Homo sapiens: one gene and its partners. The protein of the gene in region 1 purifies or fractionates together with the protein of each later gene. This does not show direct contact. Each region holds a gene or a part of one and is shown on either strand. Other genes may lie near its edges.

The links.
Region 2: the proteins of UBR2 (region 1) and ALDH18A1 purify together in Homo sapiens (affinity purification with mass spectrometry; 2 studies listed by BioGRID and IntAct, with this or other methods). This does not show direct contact.
Region 3: the proteins of UBR2 (region 1) and PLXDC2 purify together in Homo sapiens (affinity purification with mass spectrometry; 4 studies listed by BioGRID and IntAct, with this or other methods). This does not show direct contact.
Region 4: the proteins of UBR2 (region 1) and PAM purify together in Homo sapiens (affinity purification with mass spectrometry; 4 studies listed by BioGRID and IntAct, with this or other methods). This does not show direct contact.

The regions. Positions count from the first base shown.
Region 1 is NC_000006.12:42,685,436-42,693,226, reverse strand, and holds part of UBR2 (E3 ubiquitin-protein ligase UBR2), read right to left. Parts: intron 5,012-7,791; coding exon 4,841-5,011; intron 4,241-4,840; coding exon of another isoform or gene 4,219-4,240; exon of another isoform or gene 3,678-4,218; intron 3,659-3,677; coding exon 3,557-3,658; intron 2,196-3,556; coding exon 2,054-2,195; 3' UTR 1-2,053. UniProt on the Homo sapiens protein: E3 ubiquitin-protein ligase which is a component of the N-end rule pathway.
Region 2 is NC_000010.11:95,611,430-95,619,220, forward strand, and holds part of ALDH18A1 (delta-1-pyrroline-5-carboxylate synthase), read right to left. Parts: intron 5,186-7,791; coding exon 5,048-5,185; intron 2,733-5,047; coding exon 2,537-2,732; intron 2,435-2,536; coding exon 2,313-2,434; intron 14-2,312; coding exon 1-13. UniProt on the Homo sapiens protein: Bifunctional enzyme that converts glutamate to glutamate 5-semialdehyde, an intermediate in the biosynthesis of proline, ornithine and arginine.
Region 3 is NC_000010.11:20,281,088-20,288,878, reverse strand, and holds part of PLXDC2 (plexin domain-containing protein 2 isoform 1 precursor), read right to left. Parts: 3' UTR 1-7,791. UniProt on the Homo sapiens protein: May play a role in tumor angiogenesis.
Region 4 is NC_000005.10:103,002,651-103,010,441, reverse strand, and holds part of PAM (peptidyl-glycine alpha-amidating monooxygenase isoform e preproprotein), read right to left. Parts: intron 7,410-7,791; coding exon 7,293-7,409; intron 5,289-7,292; coding exon 5,216-5,288; intron 3,642-5,215; coding exon 3,431-3,641; intron 2,986-3,430; coding exon 2,785-2,985; intron 692-2,784; coding exon 576-691; intron 1-575. UniProt on the Homo sapiens protein: Bifunctional enzyme that catalyzes amidation of the C-terminus of proteins. Alpha-amidation is present at the C-terminus of many endocrine hormones and neuropeptides and is required for their activity.

The DNA of each region.
Region 1 (7,791 bases):
ATTCATCTTCTCCCAGGCTCTGTGATATTCTCAGAGAATGAAATCCAGAGACAACCTTTGCTAACTCCAGGCTCCTAGGAAGTCGGACCGGAAAGCTGGAGTATTGTTATGATTTGGTGAAAATGTTTATAATCCACTTGTACAGAGAGAAACCTGGTCTTATTATTTTAAATTTTAGCTTGGTGAACATATGAAAAAAAGCCAAAAGAAGCTTACCTTAAAAGCTAAAGAAACTGGATGTGACAGAGGCCAAAATAAACATGAATTATGCCACCTACAGCCCAAACAACCAGATCTTATGAATGAAGGCCAGAAAAAGGGGGAGAGAGGTGGACTCAAATGTGAATTTTCTTTCTATTGGTCCTCCTCTCAGCTGGGTGAGTCAGTCCCACGCAAGAATGGCGACGGTCATCCTCCTGTCAAGAGGGGGCGGTTCTTTCACACACTACCTTGGAGAGGAATGTGGCTTCTACATCCTCACTTCTTTTAGCTTCAGTTCCAGATTTCTGACCTTCTTCCTGTGATACTGTGGAGCATGCCTAGTTGACTGGTAGCTGAGTGGAACAAAACTTGTAGATGTAATTCAAAGAAAACTGATTGAAAGGGTCAGTTGCATTGGTTAAAAAAATCCAAGAGCCTCTTATTACTCATCTGTTCCTTAGCCCCACCTTAGACAGGCTCAGAATTTATTCCTCTACTAAGTCTTCAGTCACTCTCTGCATGTATTCAAGCTCTCAGCAGTCATACATCAAACAATAGTAGTTGTGTGGTACATAATAATTATAAGCTATTTTGTAAGTGGCTCTTGTTCTAGGAAGGCACCTCAGTAAGAACAATGATCAAAAAGAATAAAAAGCCTGGGTGCCAGACCATCCCAGGAATGCACTAAGTGAGCCAGCAAGGAAGCAGCAGCTTGTCTGTTCCAGGAAATGCTGGCTGGGTGGGAGTGGGTTCTCACCTTCTTCAGTGTTTGGCTTTAGATGATATACTCTGCCAATTTAGCCTTAGAAATAACAAGAGAATATCACTGTCTGAAACATTAGGGTATTCTAAAAGAATACAGATAAGAAAATTAGGATACTCTTTTAGAATACCTATTATTTTAAACTTAAGCTTGGTGAACATCTGAAAAAAAGCCAAAAGAAGCTTACCTTAAAAGCTCAAGAAACTGGATGTGACAGAGGCCAAAATAAATATCACTTATGCCAACCACAGCCCAAACAACCAGATCTTATGAAGGAAGGCCTCTCATCTAGATATTAGGATATCTAAAAGAATATCCTAAATTTTTAATCCATATTCTTTTAGAATATCCTAATTTTTCTTCCTAATTCTAAAAGAATATCCTAATTTTTTAGACCATCCTAAGTTTTTGGAAAGCCCTCTAAGTGAGTTTTCTCAAAGCCAAAAGTCTTGCCATAAAAAAAAAAAGAAAAAAAAAAAACCTCTAACAGCCCTGAAAAACCAGCCAGCACACCAGGAATCCACCTTCTCCCCACGGGCTTCTTCTGCATGTGTGTCCCCCAACTCTCTCATAGTCAATGGAGAGAAGGGAACACTGCCTTCAAAATCAACCACTTTGCTCCTAGGAGTAGGGTCCTGTCAGCAGAGGGGACACCAACCCAGTCCCAGTGTTGGGCCACTCAGTGGAACCAGGAAGTATGACCCAACAGACCACAGAGACTTTGTTCCCTGCCTCCGTTGAGTCAGCTTCGGACCCACGGTTCACTATCATCAATAACGTGAAATATCACATAATGGCTGGGACTATGCAGTCAGACCCCCACAAAGGGGCTGGGATCCAATCTAGGAAGAGAAGCTCCTTGCTCGATCTTAAAACCCAAGACATTATATTTGAGGGGCACAGCAAACAGTGCAAGAAAATCTGCTGATGGAAGATGATTTTCATCAGTCCTCAGAACCAGAAACTATAAAACTGGGAAGGAAAGTTTAAATAAAGAATTTATTTCCAAATTCAGCAGAACTTCTTTCTTTCTTAAAAAGCCAACTGGGTTAAAAAAATCCAAGTTTGTGTTTTTTGGTGGTGCAATAATTATAAATGTTGCCAGTCAATGCCAACCAGTGTCTGATTGGCTTCCTGTGCATGTCCAATTTCCTCTGTGACACTGTGTTGGTGCCAGAGCTTCTGAATCTTCTTGAATCGCTCTTTGCATAAATGTAAAGGATTTCCCCGTCTAGAAAGAGAAGACACATGTCACTCAGAATGTGTTCTGTTTATTCCTCTATTATAACCCAACCCTTCCTGATTTAGGCAAGGTTACAAGTTATTGGTTTTAGACTCCCTGCAACATTTCTGTCTGGCAGGTGACTGTGGCTATTAACAAAAACATCAGCTCTGACCCTTTGCCAAGAGCAGGTAAAAGGGAATAAGTGCTGAAATGAGGAAGGAAAGGTACACAAACCAGACTTACCCAGAGTGAGGTGAGGGAATAGAGGTTGCGGGGGATAAGGAGGGTCTGGGTTGAGAGGCTAAAACTACCAATTCATTGCCCATTTTGTTGGTAACGTGTAAAAAGGGAAGAGGGCAGAGGAGAACACAAAAGAAGAATTATAGGAGTAAAAATATTCCTCACAGATTTTACTAAGAGTGCAAAGAAAAAAGAAAAGAAAAGAAAAGAAAAACATTCCTCAGATGCAATCTTTCAGCCACAGTCTCAGTGAAGCAATCAAATGTGAGTAACTTCCAGGTCTAATTTAAACACAAGTGCAAGCTTTGGTGGGTTCCTGCCTGGGACCAGTGCCCTGAGCCAGGCACCTCTGCTCCTGTTTCTGAGCACAGCCATCCTCTCACTCACTAATCAGACTCTCCTCCTCCTAACAGCCCACGCTGAGAACAGTGGGAAGCACCAGCACTGGGTGGCATATGGGCATAGCCTCGCAGTCCAGCGCCTGGGGCAGCTCATCTACTTACCTTGCTTGGGTTTCTAGGCCTTTAACATCTGCTACTTAAGGCTGGACAGGCATATCTATGGCGGTTAAAACTTATACCTCCTTTAGACAAAAGAGATGGTCTGAAAGAAGTTCTTTAATAGTGCTTGGGGGAATTGTTAGCTTACAATATACTAAAGCTACCAGAGTAGAAGTAACTTAGCCTCAAATATTGTTATATTGTTCTTTATGTTTTAAATCTTTGTCCCCCAGATTTTAATGTAATAAGCACATTTGTTAGCAATTAAGATTTTCTCAAACACTGGGCTTCCTCTATACAAGGCCATACAAGTCAGAGTGGGCCATCCCTGGAGTGCTCTGAGCTGGGATGCTATATGGCAATTCAAACAGTTCTTTGGAGTGATAAATGGAATAAAGTTGCACTCTGTCCTATTCTCTTCCCTTACCTATCCTGATGTTCCTCATGGCATTCTGAAGGCTGGGAAAAGAACACCAAACCAGGCTGACAGGGCACCCTCCTTGGAAGACTCCACAGATAACACAGCCACCTCTTCCAGAACCACCTCAGCCCTCCACCCTCAGGACGTCACCACATACGGAAGGGCGCTGCAGGCCCTGAGTTAGCTAACTCAGGATGGGTTCTTACCTGAGTCCCTGGTCGGTCTCCCCATAGTCATCAAGGTAAGGAGGAGAATAAAAACAGCCTTTGGTTTTGCCAGCTAAAAATAGCACCTGACATTCCCGTACTCTGTAGAGAGATCAGTCATACGTTACACATTTACACATTAGTAACCAACATTTGTATTCAGTTCCAAATAGAATGAAGTCTTATAGTACTGATATTTAAACCACTATTAGGAGGAAGTTATCCATTAAAAAATTGTGCACAAACTAGGAAATAGGTTGAATCGAGTCAAATTTGTGTCCCCTGATCCCTTTGAGACATTTGCCTTTTTCTGGCATTAATAGTACAGCACAATTAAACAGACATTTATTGAGGACCTAATACGTATAAGAAATTATCAAGGTACTGGGGGGATGACTAAGCTATGGATACAACCTATGCTCCAGAGGAGCCCACACTCATGTCATGCCTCTGCTTCAAACCCTGAAATGGCTTACACCTTGCCCAGAGATGTCACCAGCACACAGCAGGCCCCTGGATTCTCTCACCTGTGCACAACACTCCAGTGACACGCGCCTCCTTGCCTTGAGCAGACAGGCACATTTCTACCCCAGGAACTGTGCAGAATGTTCTGAGTAGAATGTTCTCCCACTTCTTTAGGTCTTTACTCAGAAGTCATGTTCTTAGGAAGCCTTCCCTGATCTACTAAAATTAAATCTCAAATTTAGCTCCATAGCTGCCATTTCATATTCCCCTTCCCTGCTTTATTTTTTCTCCTTAGCCTATATCACTATCTAAATTCTTGTCAGTCTTGCTTGTCCTCTCTCTCATACAAAACAAGCTCCATCCATAAGGGCAGAGATCTTTGCACTGTGGACTACTGCATCCTCAATGCCTGGTACATAGTAGTCACTAATCACAAGCTGGCATGTAGAGTTGTGATAATATGTATAAGTGGAGGTAAAATCCAAAAGCCATGAGGACATAACAGAAAGAGTAATTCTGACTGGATTTGTTCAGAAAATCAGAGAAGTTTCACATTAGTGGGAGACATGGAGAAAGTAGAACAGAACTGTCACCTATGGTTGAGGGAAGAGGAGTGGGAATGGTAACAATAAAAGAACCAACACAGAGTTGGCATGGACCAGATGTGAGATGTGAGGCGACAAGGAGCTCCACGTTTCTGGAATGAATCACACGGAACAGTAGTCTCAAAATTCCTGGCAATATAGTAGTTTCCTGTGACACCCTAACAGTCAGATACTGAGGCAGATCCAAAGCTAAAAAGCCCCTGCAGGTCCTTACCTCAGGAAGATGCCCACTCCAGAGCCACAGGAGTAGGTGTGAGCTGTGCAGGCTCCTACATCCTCCCCTTCCAGTTCAGTCTGGCAGCAGTAACTCTGGGAGCACAGCAGAGATCCGCACACAAGGCACAGAGTTGGGGCTCTGCTCTTATCACCACCTGATTTCGGGCACCTCCAAGGGATAAAAAACCCACAAGTCATTGATCTAAAGAGTGGCTAAAGAGCTAGTGATGAAAAAACCAGCCCAGAAAAGAATTCTGCAATATCAAGTAAAGCCAAAGAAGTGTATATCCTACAGTCTATGCAAGTTTATTCCTAGAATCTGGAATAGGAAACATCTTGCACATATATACAAAGACCATGTACTGGAAACACTCAAAAGAATCAGTAACTGGAGAAAAAAAAATAAATAAAATCATCAATAGGAGAAAAAGATAAACGGTACCACTGCCATATAATAAAATACTATGGAGCAATGAAAAATCAATAAAGTTATAAACGTCAATACAGATAAATCTTAGAAACAATGCTGAATGAATGCAAAATTGGCTGGGTGCAGTGGCTCACGCCTGTAATCCCAGCACTTTGGGAGGCAAAGGTGGGTGGATCAACTGAGGTCAGGAGTTTGAGACCAGCCTGACCAATATGGTGAAACCCCGTCTCTACTAAAAATACAAAAATTAGCCAGGCATGGTGGTGTGCACCTGTAGTCCCAGCTACTTTGGAGGCTGAGACTGGAGAATCACTTGAACCTGGGAGGCGGAGGTTGCTGTGAGCCAAGATCACACCACTGCACTCCAGCCTGGGCAACAGAGTGAGACCCTGTCTCAATAAATAAATAAATAAATAAATAAATAAAATAAAATACAACATACAGCTCTCCCTCTCCCTCTCTTCTCTCCCTCTCCCCTTTGCACAGTCTCCCTCTGATGCCGAGCCGAGGCTGGACTGTACTGCCGCCATCTTGGCTCACTGCAACCTCCCTGCCTGATTCTCCTGTCTCAGCCTGCCCAGTGCCTGGGATTGCAGGCGCGCGCCGCCACGCCTGACTGGTTTTTGTATTTTTTGGTGGAGACGGGGTTTCGCCGTGTTGGCCGGGCTGGTCTCCAGCTCCTGACGGCGAGTGATCTGCCAGCCTCGGCCTCCCGAGGTGCCAGGATTGCAGAGGGAGTCTTGCTCACTCAGTGCTCAATGTTGCCCAGGCTGGAGTGCAGTGGCGCGATCTCGGCTCGCTACAACCTCCACCTCCCAGCCGCCTGCCTTGGCCTCCCAAAGTGCGGAGATTGCAGCCTCTGCCCGGCCGCCACCCCGTCTAGGAAGTGACGAGCGTCTCTGCCCGGCCGCCCAGTCTGAGAAGTGAGGAGCCCCTCTTCCTGGCCGTCATCCCGTCTAGGAAGTGAGGAGCGTCTCTGCCCGGCCGCCCATCGTCTGGGATGTGGGGAGCGCCTCTGCCCCGCCGCCCCGTCTGGGATGTGAGGAGCGCCTCTGCCCGGCCGCGACCCTGTCTGGGAGGTGAGGAGTGTCTCCGACCGGCTGCCCCGTCTGAGAAGTGAGGAGCCCCTCCGCCCGGCAGCCGCCCCGTCTGGGAAGTGAGGAGCGTCTCCGCCCAGCAGCCGCCCAGTCCGGGAGGTGGGGGGCAGCCCCTACCCGGCCAGCTGCCCCGTCCGGGAGGTGGGGGGCAGCTCCCACCCGGCCAGCCGCCCCGTCCGGGAGGTGGGGGGCGCCTCTGCCCGGCTGCCCCGTCTGGGAAGTGAGGAGCCTCTCTACCTGGCCGCCACCCCATCTGGGAGGTGCAACCAACAGCTCATTGACAACAGGCCGTGATGACGATGGCGGTTTTGTCGAATAGAAAAGGGGGAAATGTGGGGAAAAGAAAGAGAGATCAGATTGTTACTGTGTCTGTGTAGAAAGAAGTAGACATAGGAGACTCCATTTTGTTCTGTACTAAGAAAAATTCTTCTGCCTTGGGATGCTGTTAATCTATAACCTTACCCCCAACCCCGTGCTCTCTGAAACATGTGCTGTGTCCACTAAGGGTTAAATGGATTAAGGGCGGTGCAAGATGTGCTTTGTTAAACAGATGCTTGAAGGCAGCATGCTCGTTAAGAGTCATCACCACTCCCTAATCTCAAGTACCCAGGGACACAAACACTGCGGAAGGCCGCAGGGACCTCTGCCTAGGAAAACCAGAGACCTTTGTTCACATCTTTATCTGCTGACCTTCCCTCCACTATTGTCCTATGACCCTGCCAAATCCCCCCCTCCGAGAAACACCCAAGAATGATCAATAAATACTAATTAAAAAAAAAACATACAAAATAACAATACATGCTGCTCAAGAATAGAAACTTATATAGTTAATGTATAGGAATGGAATGCTTAATATTCCATTTAGAATAGTAGGTATCTTCAGAGGGAGGAGAAAGAGGCAACAGAGAAGAGACAGCTGGGGAGCTTCAACTGTCTAGGTAATGTTTAAGCTCTTACATTATTATATTCTTCTTTTTTTTTTTGAGACAAGGTCTCGCTGTCACCCAGGCTAGAGTGCAGTGGCACGATCATGACTAACTGCAGCCTCCATCTCCTGGGCTCGAGTGATACTCCCACCTCAGCCTCCCCTATTATATTATTCTTTATGCTGCTTGTATGTTAAATATTTGATACTATATTAAAAATTACTGCCGGGTGTAGTGGCTCATGCCTGTAATCCCAGCACTTTGGGAGGCTGAGGTGATACTAAAAATACAAAAAAAAAATTAGCTGGGCGTTGTGGTGCATGCCTGTAATCCCAGCTACTCAGGAGGCTGAGGTACAAGAATCACTAGCATCTGGGAGGCGGAGGTTGCAGCGAGCCAAGGTTGCACCACTGCACTCCATCCTGGGCAACAGAGCGAGACTCGTCTCAAAAAAAAAAAAAAATTACTAAGGGCTGTTATTACTTTAAGTGCAATT
Region 2 (7,791 bases), on another chromosome or scaffold:
CATGAATTTTTACCTGGAACAGAGGAAGTCCAGGGGCAACAACATAAAAACAACTGAAATAAGCAAGTTCTAGGATAGAACAGAAAGGTGAGCCTGTAAAACCACAGCCCAAAGTGGCTCCTGTAGCCTCAACAACTGAACTAGTCCTACTTTCCTCCCTCCAGCATGATCTGACTGGCCACTTGCCAGCAATGGGCCCTCAAGACAGTTGGAACAGGGATTGAAGCAGGAAGCCTTGAACGTTAAGGATGTGCAAGGTGGGCCGGGCATGGTGGCTCACGCCTGTAATCCCAGTACTTTGGGAGGCTGAGACGGGTGGATAACTTGAGGTCAGGAGTTCAAAAACCAACCTGGCCAACATGGTGAAACCCCGTCTTTACTAAAAAAATTAGCAGGGCATGGTGGCAGGTGCCTGTAATCTCAGCTACTTGGGAGGTTCAAGCAGGAGGAGAACTGCTTGAACCTGGAAGGCAGAGGTTGCAGTGAGCCAAGATTGTGCCACTGCACTCCAGCCTGGGGCACAGAGCAAGACTCCGTCTCAAAGAAAAAAAAAAGAATAAAAAAGAATGTGCAAGGCGTTTAGTGGGTTATCAACACAAGGGCTTGACTTCTGGCATTTTCCTAAAATGAATACTTGACAATAAAGATCCCAGTTCCTGCATATGGTACCTAGGCACTAGACTCGTGTGGAAAAAGGGAGGTGCCACATATACATTGCTACTCCCTGTACCCTAGCGAAGTCCCAGGTTTGCTTTAGAGGTAAGCAGTACTTGGTCAGGTGCTTTCAGCACCTGAAACTGTGGCTACTCATTTGATTTCCAACTGCGTCAGTCTGGCCCCACCTCTAGGTTCAGCTCAGCCCCAGGCTCTGGCTCTAATCCTGCTGCTGGTTAGAGGAATTTAAGGATTCTGAGGCTGGTCACCGAGGATCCCAATCACAAGCTGGATCCCACTTAAACCTTGTTTTCTGAGACATCCCCAGGACAGGGTTCATGCCTTGATTCTTTGGGATCAAGCTTTTGCCTTGGCTCAAGTTATAAGTGGTGTCTGCCTTATCCTCATGATTCCCGAGGCCCTGCCATTGTTTCTTATCTGGGATCTCACTTCTTCTGTGTTCCTTGGGGACTGGAACCCCATCCCTGTGCAAGTCATCCTTCTAGCTTTACTTTCTGCCATCCAAAAGTGCTGTATGAAGTACACACAGTGACTCATTTTGATTTGGAATTTCAAGGCCATCCTCATTTTAATGACTGAGGATACCACTTGTGTGTTCAAATTAGGTCTGGGGAGGGATTTAGTCCTGGCTAAAGGAGAGCTTTCCTCCTGTCTAATCCAGTTCACTGTGGTGCTTGGCAAACACAGGTGCCCAATCAACAGGCTTCCTTACCAAAGTAAAGTAAGGTCCCCGAACATGAATGACCATGTGATCTAACTTCCTTGTAATCCATGGAGTACAGTTTCATTTTTAAAACAATTCTTTCCAGTTCTCACTGGGACCATGCCACATTTATAAGCTAACTGGAGCCTTCCTTTCCAGTCAAAGGATGGAAGGGAAGAGACATATGTTCAGAGTCAAAGCAACCAAGGCCAACAAGCACCTTCTCTACTGCCATGCTGGTTTATATAACTCTGAAAGTGTACTATGACATCAGAAATTAAAGCTTAAAATGCATCCATGCAGAGAGTTTAACAGATTGTCCATTTTTGCCTTGAGGGCATCTATTATATTTTCTTGCAGGCATGAATTTAGGACACAGCACAACTTTATATTTGAAACTTACTGGCTTTTGGTTTGTTTACAACCTTAACAATATAGTAAAAACATAATCCAGGGAGACATTCTACAAATTACTGAATCCCAAATATCACTGCATTAAGTACACTAATATTGGTAACCAAAGACACTGGGGGGAGGCAGTGAATGTACATAAGTTTTTGGTTTGAAACGTTTCTGCACCATCTTTTCAAATCAAATCCAAAAAATAATATATGCTTGGGAACACCTTGCATATATAAGGTTGCCAGAAACAGTTCAGTCAGCATAGTGCCATGTGGTCTGTCTTACCTTTGAACCCTCTTTAGCACACAACACATTCCACTTTGTAATAAAGCTATTTGTGTATTGGTTTGGTTCGACTACTAGAGGGCAGGGGTTGTGTTTTACTCACACTTTACTTAGCATGGAACTTTGTACACAGAAGATATTAAAAAATATTGTTTCTTAAACTGCCTTATATGGTATGGCTGTGCCTGGTCTAATTCCACAGGCTTCTAAGACAGGAAGTAATGTACTAGTCCTATGGAACTCTTACCTGTTCCACTCTCAGCATATCAATGATCTGGTCAAATAATGGTGTCCTGAGCAGATCCCGGTGGATTAACAAAGTCTCCAAAGCATTACAGGCAGCTGGATATTCACATTTAGAGTCTCTGACTGAAAGAAGATGAGCAAAGAATTGTTTCCATTGACATGATCCAGAGCTGCAGAGGATGTAATATTTCTCCGTTGTGAAAGAGAAGACCCCATCCAGCTCACCTAGCCTGGTGACCTTATCAACACTGGCCTCGGAATCCACATACATGTGACAGATCCCTTCGCTGTGCCCCATCACTGGAATCCCCTTAGCAGCTTTCTGGATGTCTCTGACCAGCTGGGAAGAGCCACGTGGAATGATCAGATCTATCATTTTGTCTAGGCGGCAAAGATCTTCAACTTCTTCTCTGGTATTCACCTTTAGAAGGAAAGAAGAAAAAGATAAAGATGACATCTGACCACACAAAATATAAAAACAGCAGCTTCCCTTTTACAGATAAACATCTGTACACTCTGAGAACTAAGTGAGACACTGTGAAAACTTATTCTAAAAACAAAATTAAGTTCCCGATCATGGGAATCAAAAAGTTGTCCAGCAAATGCTTATCAAACACTATATACTCGGTGCTGTGCTCCACATCACATATCACGCAGGACACTGCATGCCGTCAAAGAGCTCAGCATCAAGTAGGGAAGGCAGCACTAGGGTACTGCTAGCCATAATACAGGGCAGACAATTTTTAAAATGCCAGAAGCAGCACAAAGGGGTATCTATGGAGGTTAAATGCAGTACACTACTCCAGGCCATGAAGATCACAAAAGGGAGTGGCTTCTCTGTTGGTTTTCTATTCACAGCATTGAGGAAATGTTGGGTTGGTCTTGCTAGGGAGTCATGGTTCTCATGACTTCTGATGGCAACTTCTACCCTGGGATGTGGATTAGAATGACTTAAAGAGCCTGTGAGAGGATACTGAGATTATGGGCATTTTGTTTTCTCTTGATTTTTAATTTTTCTCCACATGGTCATATTACTTTTATAACAAATATATATGTGTGCCAGAATGTTCACAGCAACTTTATTCCACATAGCCCAAAACTGGAAACAATCTAAATATTCATCAAGAGAAGAAAAGATGAACTGTAGTATATGCAGGTAAATGGAACACTACCCAGCAATTAAATGAGAAAACTACTGCTAGATGCAACAATGGGAATGAATGCCACAGACATAACGAACAAATGACAGGCAACATAAACGTGTGTTTTGTTTGATCTCATTTATATAAATTTCAAGAATAGGCAAAAGGCAGGGCGTGGTGGCACATTCCCAGCACTTTGGGAGGCTGAGGCAGGCAGATTGCCTGAGCTCAGGAGTTTGAGAGCAGCCTGGGCAACATGGTGAAACCCTGTCTCTACAAAAAACAAAAAATCCACAAAAGTTAGTCAGGTCTGGAGGCACACACCTGTAGTCCCAACTACTAGGAAAGCTGAGGTGGGTGGACTGCTTGAGCCTAGGAGGCTGAGGCTGCAGTGAGCCGAGAGCCAAGATTGTGCCACTGAATTCCAGTCTGGGCAACAGAGCAAGACCATGTCTCAAAAAAAAAAAAAAAGGCAAAAGTAATTTAATGTGACAGAAGTCAAAAAAGTAGTTTGTGGGGAAGGGGGCTACATATTGACTGGGAAGGGCACAAGGGGGCCCTCCAGGATGTTGGACTGTTCTGTATCTTGATACGGCTGGTGGTTATACATGTGTGTGTGTGAACAGTCGCAGAGTGGTTCACAGGATCTGTATACTTTACTGTACGTATGTTACACATCAATAGGAAGAAAAGGAGGGAGGGCACCTGTGTAAGCTAGGAAGTGGTGGGGCTGGGATTTGAATCCCTAAAATCTGCGCTCTTTCCAACCACTATGTGGGCATAAGAAAAAAACCAGATTCTGGTCACTGAGTGTGTAATGAGCAGGTTTGTAGACATCCTCCCAGTAGCCAACAGAATCCTGGAATGTTGGAGCAAATGAGCCAAAGAAAAAAAAGGATCTGGAGTCAGCCTAGGTCCAAATCTAAACTCTATCACACACCATGTGACTCTTGGGGAATTACTTTACCTCTGAATCTGTTTTTTCCCAATGTAGAAAATGAGTCTAATAATTAATGATATTTTCCTTATGGGACTGCTGTGACGATCAAATGAGTTAACGGATAAAATGAGCCTTGCACATAGTAGGTACTCAACAAGTAGTAGCTATTATTATCAAACTTCATTTGACAGTTGAGGAGAATGAGAAATGGTCAGTTAAAGTGATGACCTTAATAATAATAGTGATAACAGCATGATCTCATACTCAACACACCGCATGACAGTTTATGACAAACTTTTGTAAAGTTTCTCATCTGACTTACCCTAGATCACTCTGCCAATGACAGGAACCTAGGCCTCACACTCTAGTTCTGGTACTCCTGCTGCCTTGTGACCCAAAGAATGAAGGTCTAATTGACATTCTTGTAAATAAATAGTGCCAAGACGCAGCTGTAAGGGAGGGGCCTTCCTAAGCCACTGAGGACCCATCTGGCTCTGCAGAATGGCCTAAAGTCTGAAGGCTCACAGGCCTGCTGGAGTGTCAAGTCTGCTTGTAGTAGTGTCTTGGCTCTGTGTGGCCTAAGTTTTGCTTTAAATTCCCAAACACCTGATCTGGCCCCTCTGGGCCTGACTTGGTGCATTCCCAGGGACCTACCAGTTGCACGGCCTCCTTGACTCCATGGATTGAGAGAGCCTCCTGGGTCAGGAGGTGGAGAATCCGGTTGCTGTGTGCAGCCTCCTTCCCTCCTTTGAGTAACAAGCCATTGCCACTTGCGATAGCCAAAGCTGCCACCTGCAGATCAAAGGGAGAGCAGTGGATCAAAGGAGACAAACAGTAATAGCAACAGTGATGTTAGCATTCACAAGCACTCCTTCTGTGCTAAGCACTGTGTTCATCATTTTAGAAGGCCTATGCTGTTTCATCTTCACAACACTGCAGTGAATTAAGTGCCTGTTTTATCCCCTACTTTACAGATAAGGGCACTGAAGCCCAGAGAGGCTGATGACTCCCCGAAGTCACACAGCTTATAAATAACAGGGATGGGAGCCAGACTGAGGTGGTTTGACTCCAGAACAAACCACTGGATTTTAGCAACTAAACTATATGGCTTCCTTAGCACCATTAGCAAAGAGAACTGAGTTGGCCAGGTATGGTGGCTCACGCCTGTAATCTCAGCAATTTGGGAGGCTGAGGTGGGTGGATCACCTGAGGTCAGGAGTTCGATACCAGCCTGACCAACATGGTGAAACCCCATCTCTACTATAAATACAAAAATTAGCCGGGCATGGTGGCAGGTGCCTGTAGTCCCAGCTACCCAGGAGGCTGAGGCAAGAGACTTTCTTGAGCCTGGGAGGCGGAGGCTGCAGTCAGCCGAGATTGCACCACTTCACTCCAGCCTGGGCAACAGAGTGAGACTCCGTCGCAAACAAACAAATAAAGCAAAGAGAACTGAGTTAAGTGGCCAGGGCCACATGGCACCCCCCACCGTGGAGAACAGGGTCTTCAGCCACCTCTGTAAGGAAGCACTTGCTTCATCTGATCAGGCTGAGGCTGGGCAGCTCCTCTGGCCACATCCTACTCTGGCCTTGGAATTGTTCTGAGAGCTCTAAGTGCTTGGTGCTAAGAACCTGGAGAAGACCAGAGCTCCTGCCAGCCCCTGGGCAGCTGTGGTAGAGACTGCTGAGAACAGAGTCTTTTTCCCACATGCCTGTCTGGGGAGGAAAACGTAAACCATCCAGGAGGAGGGCTAGTTGCCTTGTTAGAGCAAAGAGTGAGTGACACTGACCTGATCATCCTACCTCTTACAAAAGTTAAGTAAACTTTCTCCAGACATAAACACACAGAATATTGCACACAATTTTTAGGATTCATGGATTCTGTGAAACCATCCAGGGCTGAGTCCAGATGAGGAGCCTTAGCTGTAGTTAGCTAATGAGGTATCAGCTCCTTGTGAGGTATCAGCTGGTATGGATGAGTGGTAGCAAAGAAATTTCACGGATACAGTCCACAGAGAGACTTAGGCCCATTTCTACTAGCAGAGGTGAGTCTGGCAGTCATCACTGGGGCATTTCTGCAAGACAGGTATGTGGCCAGAGAGGTAGTGTGCCAGCATCAGCCAGGGACTGAGGATAGGCCTCAGTGGTATGGGAGTCCCTTGGTGAACACACTGGTTTTAGGGGATGTCAGAGAGTACCCTTCACAGAGCATTCCAGATTCCACAGTCAACTATGTCTTATAGTAAAGAGGTGCTAGTTTTTTGTTTTTACAGTAGAATTTCCCTTTGAGACTTTGGGGCTAGTGCAAAGGAAGAGCTGGTATCCTATAGGACAGTCCAGTGGGGGAAATGCTCCCAGAATTCTGGGAGGCAGTTTAGGGTAATAAAGTGGGGCCACTCTCTAATGACACCTTGTATTTCCCAGCATGGCTGCTTGGCAAGAACTTTAACGCATGCTTTCTCAACCAGAGGCTGTGATATGTCAACTTGCTTAAAGAGGGTTGCATTCTTTTCTCTTTTTTGAGATGGTATCTCGCCCTGTTGCAAGGCTGGAATGCAGTGGCACGATCTCGACTCACTGCAACCTCTGCCTCCTGGGTTCAAGTGATTCCCCTGTCTCAGCCTCCTGAGTAGCTGGGACTACAGGTCCCACCATGCCAACTAATTTTGTATTTTTTAGTAGAGACAAGGTTTCACCATGTTGGCCAGGATGGTCTCAATCTCTTGACCTCGTGATTCACCTGCCTGGGCCTCCCAAAGTGCTGGGATTACAGGTGTCAGCCACTGTGCCTGGCCGACAGTTGCATTCTAATTTCCATTAACTACTGAAAGTTCTTTTTCCTAACAGATGTACTTATAGGAAGCCATCAGTGATACTGACAATAAAGGGGTCCTTTTCACATGGGCCAAGCCAGTTATTCATGAATGACAGCAGCAGGCTAACAGAGACTTGTGGTCAGAGAACAAAGTGAACCACAGGCTAAGATATTTGGAAATTTGCTCCTGCACTGTGGTATGGTAGGTTGATTTGGGTTCCAGTCCCAGTTGCACCTTACAGGTGTGACAGGAATATTACCTTCTATGAGGTTCAGTTTCTCCAGGTCTAAAATGGACATATGAACAACTACTTTAGGATACTGGAGGAATCAAGAACGTATATTACCTCAAGAACAACCTGAGAATAAAGTCTCAAAAATTATCTTTTTTTTGGTTAAAAGACCTTCACACACACACAATTGTCTTTGGGAAACCTATCTCCAGTATTGAAAATATATTCTTCAGGATACAAAATCAATGTGCAAAAATCACAAGCATTCCTATACATCAGTAACAGACAAACAGCCAAATCATGAGTGAACTCCCATTCACAATTGCTACAAAGAGAATAAAATACCTAGGAATC
Region 3 (7,791 bases), on another chromosome or scaffold:
AACATTTGGTCCCCACCAGCTTCCACACCTTTAAAGATAAATTGTGTCACTGAGGCAGTCAATACACTAAATTTCTTATCAAACTATTACTAGGGGAAAAAAATCAGATTTCCCACACACTGTAAGCAGAACCGAAAGAGCTGCAGAGAAACTTGGTTTAAGAAGCTGTGTGAAGAAAACATTAATGACTTATTGCAATTGTAATAATCCCCAGGTAAAAGATGGATGTCAAATTAATGGACTGTAAGGAAATACATTCAAACTTAGGTCATTAATATTACAGTGAACATAATCAGGAAGCTTGCAGAAGTATGTAGCATCTCTGAATTATTGAATTTGAACAAAGGTTTCCAATAGAGGTCACACTCTTTTTGCTCTCAGACACCATTAGTGCAGATTCAGATACAATCATTTTTACATTTGCAGGCTCAGGTACGTTCAACAGAAGGTCACCGAGAAGTATGGGCTGGTTATTTTAGCATGACAGAATGCAGGCTTGGAATTTCTCCTTGACATGGCAGAAGAAATAGGAATGATGCCCAGAGGACTGGAATAAATTCAAAATGCTTGGTTTTCCAAGTTCTATTTTAATAAACTTCGGAAAATTAACCTTTCCCTGAAAGACACGTCCTTGGTTTGGCACACAGGGCTTTCCAAAACAGTGAGAAACGAACTGGCCATGTGCTGCACTCACACACATAGTCATTCTTTTTGCTTGGGGTTGACTAGGTTCATAGGGCCAGATTTTCCTCAGTGTCCTCTTGTAGCAGTGCCGCAGTGAGCTTTGTGATTCTGACAAAGGGTGCCATTATATCCACTTTGAAATGCATTACAAATATTCTGCATGCTGGTGCAACTGGCATAAAATCTGGAAAGCCACCGCCCCCCCCCCCTCCCCCGCCGCAAGAAGTGCCCAATTTCTTCTCTTTTCACACTTCAACATTTCAAATGACTACACACAGAATTACCAGAAACAGTAGTAAATTCCTGGCATTCGAAGTTCCCATGATCCCAGCTGGCATATAAAAAAGACTCTCTCCTTTTTTTCCCCTGAAAATAATGTACTCTCCAGGCACTGTTGAAATGCTTCAAATCAGGCAAATGAGAGATTTGTTTTGACCAATCAATGAAAAGACTTCCCCCTCTTCTCCGTGAGGGCCCCAAGACTGGGTTACGCCATACACAAGATGTCTGTTTCTAAAGAGACTTCACTGATTTCCCTAAAATGATTTTAACATTTCTTTGCAAGTGAAGCTCTGATGTTGCCTAATGTTATTTTCAGAGTAGCCTGCTGCAGGATGCCTAATTTGAGTTTTTATTTCCCTGCTATAAATGTGACAATCTGAGTATGTTTTCATTCAAACCACCTTGAACATGGTGGCTGAGGCTTCACCACAAATGTCCAGAAAATAGCACTGGAGTCTGTCTGAGTCCTGAGATGGTCAAATCTCAGAGAAATCCAGCTCTGGGCCCGGAAAGGAAAGTGCCATCTCTTAACCTTTCCTCAGGAAAATTATTTTATTGATTTTTTTGCCTTATTTTCATGCCTTTTAAGTCAAAGGAAGATAAATGGAAAGTCTCTTTTTGGTCATTCACTAATTCTCTAGGGCAAGTCACATAATTCTCTAGGACAAAGGCCTCCATGATGTTAGGATGAATGCCATAGAAGAGGTATGGGGGGTGATGGCTGCATTTTAGACTAATCATAGGCATATCCTTTGCTTTCTCTATGTCAGGGGTCTCAGCATTGCTTGCAGAATATGTGCCCCAGTGTCTGGATGTCTGAATGACCTAAATTTGAGCTGGTCATCAATGAGTATTTATTAGCACATTGCTCTTAAGAAGTTAATAACTCGGCCAGGCACGGTGGCTCAGGCCTGTAATTCCAGCACTTTGGGAGGCGGAGGTGGGCGGATCACCTGAGGTCGGGAGCTGGGGACCAGCCTGACCAGCATGGAGAAACCCCGTCTCTACTAAAAATACAAAATTAGCCGGCTGTAGTGGCATATGCCTGTAATCCCAGCTACTTGGGCGGCTGAGGCAGGAGAATCGCTTGAACCTGGGAGGCGGAGGTTGCAGTGAGACGAGATCACGCCATTGCACTCCAGCCTGGGTAACAAGAGCAAAACCCCATCTCAAACAACAACTAAAAGAAGTTAATAACTCTGCCTAATAGCACATTTAGATTTTTATTTTTTTTTCCATGAATCATCTCCATTCACTCACTCTTAGGTTTATACTTTCCCCTAAAATTCCCCCATGAAACTTCTAAAATTAGTTTCATGCTATGTATTTGTTTGATAGGCACAGAAGGTTTACAGCTGCATGGTCAGTAAGCGATACTTTGGTCATGAATGTATATATACATATATATTTGCAATGCTGAGAAAAAGAGAGACTGCTGTTAAAAATCAAAATTCTCGTGGAATGAAGAGAAGCCACTGAGATTTTTTTCAACCAGAATGAAAATAAATAAAATATCACTATCTGCCAAATCAAAAGCTTTTATGTTATTCCATTATGAAAGACATTTATTGAGTAATTTGCAAATGTTAATAAGCCTTAGAAACTAGGAAAAGCTGAGTACTAGTTTATGACTTACATTTAATTTTTTTTCCAGCCTTTTATCCTGGGTTTAAAGTAACACAGAATCTTTCAGTGTCAACAGTGAGCTGGAAATTAACCTATAATAACAAGTTTTGAGCATTTTGCTCCTCCAGGCAAAATTTGGTCACTCATAATAAATATATTATGAAGAAGCCAATGATGATGTATTCCATAAACTTGTTATGAAAAACTGACTCCAGAAATTATGTGACTTTACTTGAATAATTACCATTTTACTTCTCTACAATAATCATTGTGAGAGCAGTGGGCATTGGATGGTTGAAAAGTTATTCCAGACAATAATTAGGCAGATGTATTACAATTTAAGTTGAGGCTAGATCAACTTAATCAAAACCTTAAGAAGTAATACCATGTTATGATATGACAATGGTAGAACAGGAAATTATAGACACATTTGAGGCTGGAGTTTTCTGATTTCCCTGATTGTCTTATGTCTGGGATGGTCTAATAAATGACATAACCACCACACACACCTAAAGTGCAAATGCTTTTTTGATACACTGGTGTTTCTGAATACCTCAAAACAGTGATATTAATAATTCAAAACCCAATAGAAATATTGGGTCGAGAAATCAAACTTCAACTGTTGCATCTGGTCAGTAAGACTGCAGTGAACTAGAAAGTATTCTTAGGTCAGGGAGAATTTTGAGTAACTTTTTTTCTCACAGATAAAATTAACAGGTCTACAGCACAGACATGCAGTGATATATTATGTTTCAGACACATTCTTCAGGCAAACAGTTTCTAGTTCCCATTTTAAGTAGAATAGAAAATTGGAGTTGAAAATTGATAGAGTATTGTTGATCCTATCTACTTGTAAAGTCTGGTTTAGGGATGTTATTGTATTATAATGATCGGTTACATGCCTGGACTCTCACTACTGTATATCACAAGTTACTAGCACAGTCACTTGGTTCCAGTAGGTGTTCAATAAATATTTCAGTGAACTGAACAGTTAAATAAATGAACAAATAGGGAGATGAATCAAAGTGCTCTGTAAAATGTAAAATGCTTCACAAACATAAGGTAATAGGAGTATATAAAAGGTAACACCACAGACCTCGCATTATCTGCCCAAAAAACCTTATAAGGACAAAAATGTTGTAATAGTTTGAAGAGCAAATAAAAATTGCAATTATATATGTGGTCAGAAAATCAGCTATATAGATCATTCATTTTCAAATATATTTGGGAAGAAATAAAACAAAGGCAGAAAAATTTTAAATGGCCAAAATAAATTGTATTGCTAACTTAGATGGCCACAGATGGGGGCAGGGGTGGAGAGAGGAGAAATTGAAAACACCACAAAGACCCCGCAATGGCTAGAACTTGAAATCTCTGGATATTGCAACAATAGCAGCCTCCTTAAGTCAGCAAAAAGATAAAGATTGATCCAATGTTCTATATTACAGAACAGAGCAGATTGTCAATATAGCAAATAAAGTTACCGTTGAGTGGACTGCGCTGTCTAAGCTGCTTGGTTGGCCTTAAGTGCCGACAATTAAGAGATGAAGGCAATGAGAACTGAAACAAACATTTAAGTTCAAGACCCAGTTTACTGACACTGGGACTATTACTATATCTCTTTGGGCCTCAGTTTACTTATCTGTAACATTAAGAGGTTGGATTACATGATGTCTCACGATTCTTTTTTTTTATTTAGAGATGGGGTTTTGCTCTGTTGCCCAGGCTGGAGTGCAGTGGCATGATCATAGCTCACAGCAGCCTCTAACTCATGGGCTCAAGCAACTCTTACACTTCAGCCTCCAAAGTAGCTGGGACTACAGGCATGAGAAACCACACTTGGCTAACACACACACACACACACACACACACACACACATAATTGCTATCATCTCTATCAAATATACATATATATTTGATATATATGTATATTTGTGTGTGTGTGTGTGTGTGTGTATATATATATATATATATGTATATTTGATAGAGATGGGTCTCACTATGTTGTCCAGGCTGGATCTGCCATGACTCTGGCATATGACGCTGATAACAAAAGTGGGGTTGGAGGTCGTGAAGTAAAAGCAGCAGTAACTTGGAAAATACCTAAAGAAATACAAACCAAAAGAACATTTCACAGGAGGAAGAAATTAGAACCAGATAATCTAGTTTTCAATTAGTCTTATTTAAATATTAATTTCCTATCATAAACGAAAGCATCTTGAAGCGATCTGTGGATCCTGGCAAAACCTTTCTCAAGTGGGCAATAGACACTAGGGACGTGATCAAATTTATACTCCCTCATGAAGATGTAACATAAGAATCTGTTGCGAAAAACTGATAAATGATACTAACCTTAGAATATGTATCTGGATATTAGCATAATTTAAAATAATTTTATTCCCTTTATATAGTCTGCATGTGCAAAGGTTTACATTAAGTTCCAAATAGTTTTATATTTTAATGCCATAGCTCCTTAGTGTTACAGTGATAAAATAAATATGAAATTATTTATGTTTGAGATAGTGCCTTCTAAATGGAAGCCTCCTTTTGCTGTTAAGTGTAAAATAGGAAATCATAAGAAACTAGAGAAGCTAAGTGGCTCTATGCAATAAAGAACTGAGCCAGTTGAAGGATGTTCATAGGCAATGTTGTGAAAGAGTGGATAAATACATGGGATGGATGTCATGTGGGACAAATACTAAAGGAAATATTCAGATGGGCAGAAAAGAAACTGAAGCAATTTTGCTTTGTGTTTTGAATGCATTCTCTTTTTCTCAAGATACGTGATGAACTGATTACCTTTGAACGCTTTTTGCACTGATGAACTATTCTTCCTTTGAATGCAAATTTGTGCTGGTACTCGACCAAAAGTCGTACTTTATATGGGTTACATTAACATAAGGTTTTTAAGAGTCTGCACATCTGTACATTTAATCAGGTTGCATAATAATCTTGCAAGAAAGACAGGACAAAAATTGTTTTTCTTTTCCAAAATTGCAAATTGAGACTCAAGGAGGTTGAAGTGATTTTCCCAAGATAACACAGTGGGGATTTAAAGCTGTGTCAGCTTGTATTTTTTTCATTACTCCATAGGGCCTCTCTAAAATCAAAAATGCTTGGATATGCCCAAGAGCTACCAAATCTTGTTTCTTTCCTCTTCTTCCCTTTTCTTCAAGGACAACGAATTCAAATGAAACACAGCATTGTCCATTAAAATTTTCTTCAACCACGGAAGTGTTTCTTGTTATCCAATATGGTAGCCACAAGCCAGGCGTGGCTATTGAGCCTTTGAAATGTGGCTGGTGTGACTGAAGAATTACATTTTTAATTTAATTTTAATTAATTTTAATTTCAAAAGCCACGTTGGCTAGTGGATATAATATTGGACAGCACAACTCTAGAAGCTACATATAAGAGATTGGCAAATGCCCTTGATACCTCAAACTAAAATAGTAATTGGGGGTCAATTGCACTTTTAGTTTTCTAGGTGTTAGTATATCTTGAAGTCCAAACCCTTCACACACAAGCCACCATTTATGGTCAGTGCCATCTCTTGGGCTTAAGCCATTTATGCCTGAGGTTGCAATTTTTTGAATTTTTGCAACCAGACCTTGGTGATGACCTTGAGCAGTAGGCTCTAAATAACTCCCATAAGCTTAGCGTTCCAATAATGGAACACTAGACATAAATGGGTCAAGATATTTTTCTTGAGTTTCAGTATCTTTACCTAGTCACTGATTATTATTTTTACAAATAATTAAGCTGAAATAACTAAATTCCTCTGTAGCACCATTTATCTGATTTATCCAGAAGTTTGCATCTCTTTGTTATCTTTTTTTGTTATTCTATTATGTTCATAGTATATTAAGTAATGTACAGTTGCACCTTCTCTAATACATAATTATGTAAAGTCCAAAGCATTGATGACCATTTTGAATTTTCAGAAACTGTATGTTTTCTCACATGGGAACAAGAACAAACCAGAAATATAAAATAGAATGAGAGTTTCATGAAAGAAAAGGATTTAGCCCACATTTCCCCTTACCACTAAAGAATTCACACACCACACACTTCTCACTACCTTTAACTCTTAGTTCTGTTAAGAAGTTTTCCCACACTCCAGTTTCAAGAAGTTTTCTCTATTATTTGTTGCTTTGGTTCACTGAAGAATTCAGTGTTTATGTTTTTTTACAGAATTATCAATTGTTTTGAATCAAAATAGAAAATTGATTCAAAATTGTTTTGAATCAATTGTTTTGAATCAAAATAGAACGCTGAAGGGTATAAGAATAACATTACTACTTGAGAATTAAGTAGTACTTAAGGGACACAAACTAAGAATACACATGCAAGATTTATATAACTGTCAAACAGTTGCTATTGGAAGCCACAGCTACCACAAAAGGTAGTGAAAGAAGCATCATTTTATCCTAAAAGGAAGTCGTCTATGTGTTCCTTATGCATTTGTAGAATACCAGTTGCACCAGTAATATTGGCATGTCATTTGGTTATTGCTGTCTCACCAAACCTGCTCCACAAGAATAAGTGGGGATACTTCACATAAACCATACATAGCTGCTGCAAAGAGATTGTCATCACAATCCTTCAATCACCTTGCTTTTCAAAATTTTTTTTAATAGTTAACTAAGTTAGGAAAAAGTTACCATCTTCATCAAATACTTAAAATTGTAAAGCAAAATATATGGAATAGAAAATGGCATTCGTTCACGTCAGACACTTGTGATGATAAAGTATGGTACTCTGTGAGTGGACTGATGACCAAGGCAGATGTGTACAGATGCTAAACTGTTGGGAAAATGCTGCTTATGAGACATCTCTGCTTCTTGAGACCTGAATCTGCAAATGTTGAGCACTGTACCTTACAAAAGCCAACAGTTTCTTGGCACAGAGTGTAAAAGTTTCATGGGTTAGAATGTTGGTGAAATTGTACACTCAGTACCTGAATTTAAACTTTAGGAGCTCAGTATGTATATTAACCACTTTCCTTCTCAAGGGATGCCATTCCTTTCTTCATTCATGAGGAATTTTCAAAATCAGGATTGTGATTCCAAGGCAATCGATATCTCCATTTAAGGAGCTTTCTGCATCCACTTTATTTAGCCAGAGAGGGAAGGGGTTGACATAAACGAAAAAGTGGATCAAATAGTCAAGAACATGATGGGCGCGGCAATGAACTGA
Region 4 (7,791 bases), on another chromosome or scaffold:
TTGCTGTGTTTATAAAAAGCACGTTAGAATAAACAGTGGGAAAACACTTTTGAAGCCAAAAGTAGCTTTTAGTTTCTTAACCAAATCTTTAGAACTTGAATAAATTCCAGGAAGTGCTATTTTCAAGTCTTGTTGCTTAGCACAGTCATAGCAATAAAGAAAGCAAACAAGATGTCTGTTGGGTCTAAGAGAACTTTAAGAGTACACTTAACATGTTGTGATGTTTTCTCTACTTGGATGAAACCAGAAAGCGACTGATTTATTTTTTGTATTCTAACTATAGTGAATTTAAAAACCTGCCATCATATGCAGGTGCAGTTCTACTAAGAACCTTAGAACTGCACACGTGCTAATTTGCATCTGAAGAAATTGATCTAGGAATAGACAAAGACATTTATTCTAAATAAAATATAAAATAAAAAATAAAATAGAACACTCCCATCAACCTTGCTAAGAAAGTTATCACATCTTCTTAAAAGTTTTTCTAAAGCTATTCAAGTACAGATTGAATGCCAAGATTTATATTTTAGTCTTCTTCTCATGAAAATTGAAACCTAGACAATGTGTGTAAATACCTTGCGCACTGGCTTGAAGATGTCTATAATTTCCCCATTGGAAAAGTTCATCACAAATCCTTGTACAGGTTCTTGGTCCCCAAAATGAGGCTTCCCATTCACTGCAAAGAGCAAGCCTGCAACAGCAAATCCAGTTAACCTTTCTTTAAAATATGGGTAAGAATGGACTTCTAATATATCCATGTATATTATGCAAAGAATAAATTTAGGGTCAACCTGGTCCCTACAATTGGCAACAAAAGTAGAATATAAAATACTTAGTGTCTCCTCCTGAGTAACCAGATCAGTGGCAAACTGGTTAGAGGACTAACCTCCTTGTGACAGGAAAATCGGGAACTGAAATGTGTGGTCCACTTGGAAAACCAGTAGAAATCAGAAATACATAGATATTGATATATAGATATAATACACATATATAGCTATTACAGGCATCCTAAATAGGAATTGGGGAAAGTCAGGTTATTTAGGCCAATAATTTTGGAGTCTCAGATCTTTTAAAAAATAAGTAATATTTGCCATAGCTACATGGAGAATCCAAGAGAAAATCAAAGAAAATAAGTGAAGTTACAGTCTATATAGAACAATCTGATTTTAAACAACTAGAATTTGAAAATGTGAGATGTATATTTCAGATTATCAAAGACATATTTTCCTTAATTAAAAAAGACCATCTTTTTAATTTTCACACCATGAATACTTTTTGTAGTAAAATTATATTTCTTAACACAATACTGTTTATTCAGAACAATGAAAATGGTGATGTTTACGTTAAATAAACAATTCAGATGATTGAACCACTACATTTTCAAAGAATTAAAACATAATAAATTATACACAATGCTAAGCCACCATTGAAGATATTTTCATCATTCTTGAAGGATTATAGTTTTCTAGGATGTACTATAAAAAACACTATAAACATCAATTACTATTGTGCAAAATTATAGAGAAAATTATCTTTTGCTTAGATTCTGTTCTTAACCATATTCCTTCTCAACTGATAATTTTCTTCTTATATTTAATTTATTTTTGTTTATTATGAACTTGATCACCCTCTTAATTAAGTAAAGGGTCCTGACAAATTTTTCTTTAAATGTGCGGCAAACCAACCTAAAGAATGATAGTTGTGAGAACCTCTTATTACTTTTTCTTTATTCCTTGAGGAAGCCAAATTTGCTCTCTATCAATCACCTGAGTCCCTTGATTTTATGTCCTAAATAATTTGGGGGGCTGCTTGGTCCAGATAGTAGCCATATGCAACTTATAAGAAACATAAATATTACAGTAATACCTATAAATAGTCAATGCTGCTTTAATACAGGTATAGATGTTTTTATTAAAATATGTTGTGCCCTTTAATTGTGAATTTTTCAAAAATTCCTCGTTATTGATCTCATTTCACTTCATTGTGAAAAGAGCATATTTTAAATGTTTTCACCATAAAACATAAGTATGTGAGGTGATGGGTTTGCTAATTAGCCTTACTTAGTCATTCCACATTGTAAACATACATCAAAATATCACATTGTACTCTACAAATATATACAATTACTATGTCAATTACAATTTAAAAAAATTGTAATTGTATGTAAATTTCAGAAATTAAATATATTTTCATTATTTAAAGAAAATATGGTAAGTTGTTTTGTAATATAAGTTATATGTATTTTATTAGTCTGAATTATTTTTCAGATTTTCTTAGAGTCAAGAAAATCTATTTTGAAAATGAGAAAAAAGTTCAAGATTTTATTGATTATTTATCCTGGTATTTAGGCATAAGCCACACTTATTTTTACATATTTTATCTTTAAAAAAATTGGTCACTACTGTTTTTAAAAATGTGAAATGAGTATTTTGAATACTGATTTTATCAGACATATACCATTTGTCGATGTGTGAAGACAAATATTAATTATTTAATACTGGAGCAGATGATCATAATTAAGATAAAATGAAAATCAATGTTTGGGAACATTTTTAACCCCTTACAAACAGGTGTTAAATCCTTTGAGTTCTTCATTGTTTCTGTACAATGAATAGTGGTACCTTAATCAAAACTGAGTTAGAACACACTAACAGTTGTAAGATACTTTTAAGATGTGAAATATATAGCAAAGAAAATTTATAAAAAGAGCACATTAAGATAACACAATTTTTAAGGATAGAGTACAGTAGGACAGAAGACAACAAACATATTAAGATGAAATACCTGGTATATATGAAATTGCAAATACATTTCTTCCAAATGATGAATGCTTAATCTCTCTCACAAATTCTTTGGTGTCAGTTTTAAAACACTGGATCCGACCATTTTCCCGGTCTGCCACACATAATTGGCCCAAAAGAGGCACAAGAGCCAAGCTGTGAGGAACAGTGAACTGGCCTGGCAGAGGACTGCTCCCTGAAGACTCTGCAGAACAAAAAAAAGCCTTAGATACACAATGTTAAAAATCACCCAAAGTTTGACTCTCTAGTATGTTTCTAAATTCATGATAGTAAACCATTAAATGCCTGGAGCCAGGGGAAAGATAAGGTAAAGCAGTTTATAAGATTATTTTATAATGTCTTTTATCCACAAATACATTACAGATTTTCTCCCTATTTGGATAGTTGTTTGGTGGATACATTATTTTCCTTACAAGACGTGTGTGTGTGTGTGTGTGTGTGTGTGTGTATGTATATGTGTGTGTGTGTGTGTGTGAGAGACAAGCTAACTGGATGCATACAATGACCCAGGTTACAATGACCCTGTAGGGGACAATTACAGCTTAAAGAATGTGAGTGTTGGCCAATATTTAGTTCCCAGTGATACTGGCTAAGAATTACAACTGGAGATTAAGAGTCTTATTGGGTACCTTCTCCCCACTGTGTGATGAACTTTCCACTTGGTGAAAACTGCACAATCCTGCTGTTGCAGTAACCATCTGATACATAAATGGCTCCAGTGCCTGGATCCACAGCCACATCAGTGGGTTGACAGAAGTGATTCTGGTCACTGCCTGGTTGCATGCTCCTTCCCAGGATTAATACAGGGCCTTCTTTATTGTTTGGATCCAGTTTGAACACCTTTTTAAAAAGGAACAAAAGCCTTACCTACTTTTCATGGTTATTAGTGACTTACACCCACATGACTAAGACCACTTTCACAAGCAATTGGAGTAGAAGCTCCCAGAGACTTATTTAAAAGAAGGTATTAATACTTGTTAGAACTGAACGGGATCCTAGAAATCATCTGGTCTGGTTCCTTCATTTGATAATAAAGCCTATGAAGATTAAATGATTTGCTCAAGGTCACGCGGTTAATTAGTAGTGAATGGAGACTAGTACATGGATACCCAGTTCTGTCCACCCTGATGTTTCCTTTTTGTCTTTCCTTAGATAATACTACAATGCACTCCAGATAATACATGAGCAATAAATGTTTACTGAGATGATGTTTTCCAAGTTATTTGCCACCTATTCATGAAAAGCATATTACGCTTGATATAACTTCTTTTAAAAATAACACAAATTTCACTTTTTATATATAAATATACATTTACTAGAGGCCTAGCCTCAATTTATAGAAGATTAAGGTAGTTTAAGAAAAAAACATAAAAAAATAAGTAAAAAAATAGAAATAAGACTTAGGCCCAGACACGATGGCCACACCTGTTAATTACAGCACTTTGCAAGGCTGAGGTAGGTGGATTGCATGAGTCCAGGAATTCAAGACCAGCCTGGGCAACCTGGCAAAATCCCATCTCTACAAAAAATTTAAAAAAATTAGCCAAGTATGCTGGTGTGTGACTGTGGTCCCAGCTACTTGGGAGGCTAAGGTGGGAGGATCACCTCAGCCTGGGAGGTGGAGGCTGTAGTGAGCCAAGATCGTGCCACTGCATTCCAGCCTGAGGGACAGAGTGAGACCCTGTCTCAAACAACAACAACAACAGCAACAACAACAACAACAACAACAACAAGTTAGGAACAGAGGAAATAAAGGCAAATACAGACAGTTAAGAAAATGGTTGGGAGGGCCCATGTAGTTATTTGAGTGAAGCTTCATATCTGGTCCAAGGGACAAATGTGACTTCATCATTTACATACTAGCTTTCCCTAGCATTGAGTTCTAAGAGAAATATTTCAGATGTGGATTGTTATGGACTGAATGTTTGTGCCTCAAATCCAAATTCACATGTTGAAATCCTAACCCCCAATATGATGGTAATATGAAGCAGGGCCTTTGGGAGGTAATCAGGACAAAAGGGTAGAGTTCTCATGAATGGGATTAGTGCCATAAGAAGAGATAACAGAGATTACTGTCACTCTTATCTCTCTGGCCATGCAAGGATACTATGAGAAATTAGCAGCCTATAACCCAGAAGAGGGCCCTCACTAGAACTCAACCATGCTGGCACCCTGTTCTTGAATTCCAGACTCCAGACCTGTGAGAAACAAATTTCTGTTGTGTATAAGCCACCCAGACTATAGTACTTTGTTATAACATGCTGAACTAAGACATGGCTGCTCTATTTTCTTGTTATAACTTACTGGGTGACAGAAGAAAAAACAAACAAACAAAAAACCCATACAACTCCAGAGCTCTTCAAAAGCATAACTCTGTTAGCTTCTAATTTGAATATTACCAAAAGGAAGACTACCTGATGGAGAGCCACGTCTGTGACCCAATAATTCCCATCTTTATCTATACTCAAGCCATGTGGCAAGTAAAACCTGCAAAATAAAAATATTTGTGTTAATTACACATTTACTCTCAAGGCATATGTGACAGAAATTTTTCTAATTAATCTGTAAAGACAATGCAAAGTTATAAATTGATAAATGTATACTTGCATTATTATAGAAAAGAACAAAATGAATAGTTAATAAAAACTGTTATAATGAGATCTCCTTGTGACAAACCTTAGGTAGTATTTAATAGTATTAAAATTTATAAATTAAGCCTACATATAAATTACAAATGTTTATTATAAAGTATGGTATATTAGAGAAAACAGTATCAGTTTAAAAACAGGTTCTGAGGTCATAAGTGTTAACATCTTACAAATATGTATAAAACTGACTTAAGAAACATAAATGGATTGATATAGTTTGCGGTTAAAACATGTTGCAAGGAAATGTAATGTGTTAATATAAACTATTAGACATATAACTCAAAGGCTTTAAAGAGTGCCTATTAAAGACAGTAAAACCCACAGCACATAACCTCCAGCCAACATGGGCTGTGAATATCTAAGCAAAGTGAAATAGTGAGCTAGATAAACATTAGAGAAGGTTAATCTGGCAAATCAATCTTAATGATCTAGGTAAGGAACCTGGACTGAGCTAACAGACACATGGACAATACATTGAGGTGGTTTGGTCCAATGATATCCGACAATCCAATAGCTCTGTTAGCTTCTAATCTTAGTGTAGTGTTGACAATACAGATTTTTTTTCATAAGCCATAACTGTAACACTCTGATTTTGACTAATTAGCTGAACTAGATCCCTGTTTTGACAACTGAATGTGAGGATTATGATTTGCTTTCAAACAGATACTCCACCGATGGCCAAGTTGATTTAGCAGTAGTTTTTCTGCCTTCCCCTTAATTCCTTTCTGGAATGAGGGTGCTTCTGGTGAATAAATAGAGCACCAATGAAACAGGTTCAAACATTTCACCCCTGACACACAATCTTGAGAATGCTGTTAAAAAATTCTAAGCATCATTATTATCATCTCCCAAGCAGCTGCACTCAAAACGGTGGCTATCCACCTTGCGAAGAAGCTAGCTTTCCCTGTGCTTAAGCAGATGGAGAAGGGTATAATTCCTGAAGCTGTCAAGTTACAATGGTTCAGGAGATCTGTAAGCAAGTGCCTCCCTCACTTCTTTCAATGACCATAAATATCAGTCAACTTTTTTTTTTTTTTGGCTGCCAAGTGCCATCTCGAAATAAGACTAAATAATGAGCAGTTTTCAAAGCCAAATTACATACGCATGATAAGGAATGCTAAAAATGACATTTGTTTAGTATTCACTTTGAGACGGAAAAAGAGAAGCTCTTTTACTTAATGGTGATTACTTGATGAGTTTGGTTGTCCTGAAGAATTTTTCTGCTGAAGAATTTTTTTGGATCATTAGATCTGGCTGAGCAGCAACTCACTTAATCAAGTATGTAAGATATATATTACATATGTAATATGTAACAAGCTTGACTACATATTAAAATCACCTGGGAACTTAAGATTATTAGCCCCACTCTATACAGAATCTAAATCTAATTTTTTAAAGGACAAATTGACAAATTTTAATTGTATACATTTATGGGGTACAATGTGATGTTATGACATATGTATACAATGTGGAGAGATTAAATCAAGCTAATGAACATATCCATCACCTCAAATACCTAACATTTTTGAGGTGAGAACATTCCAAATATACTCATTTAGCAATTATGAAATAGGCAAGGACCTGAACAGACAGTTCTCAGAAGAAAACATACAAATGGCAAACAGATAAGTGAATCTAAATATTTTGAAGCTTCCCAGATGATTCTAATATTCAGTCAAGATTTAGAAACACCTATGTAGAAAATGAAAGATGGGATGGCCCAGTTAGTTTTCTGCTTTCTCAAGTGCAGTTATACAAAACACTCGAATTTCAAGACTCTATGATACACTTTATACTCAATATATGTAGTACAAGTCTTAACAACATAAGTCATTTAACTCACAGATTTTTTCCACTGGACTGGAGTACTGCAGCATTATTTGGATCTATGACAAGAATAGTGTCTTCTTCAATTGGTCCGAGTCCTATTTGCTGGTAAACAAACTTGCTGTCAAACGAGCTAAACAAAAAGCATTAAATAGGACATGAAACAATCATAAATTCCAATGAAATTGAGAAATGCAGACCATTCACATAAATACAAAATCAAAAGAGCTCAAATGTATTTGACTTCACTCTTTGTCTGCCACATTTCAGTCATTTGGATTATAATATACCCCATTAACCTGTAGAACCATGCTACTCAGGGTGGTCAGTGGAACGGAAGCATTGGCATTGCTGGGAAATGCAGTTTCAGACCTACTGGACCTGAATCTGCATTTTCACAAGACCCTTGGGTGGTTCCTATGCTCACTGGGGTTTGAGAAACATTGATCAAGAACTCTTAATGTACCTGAAAAATTTCAAAAGCTCTTCAAAAGAGTATGCAGTCATTCAATAGA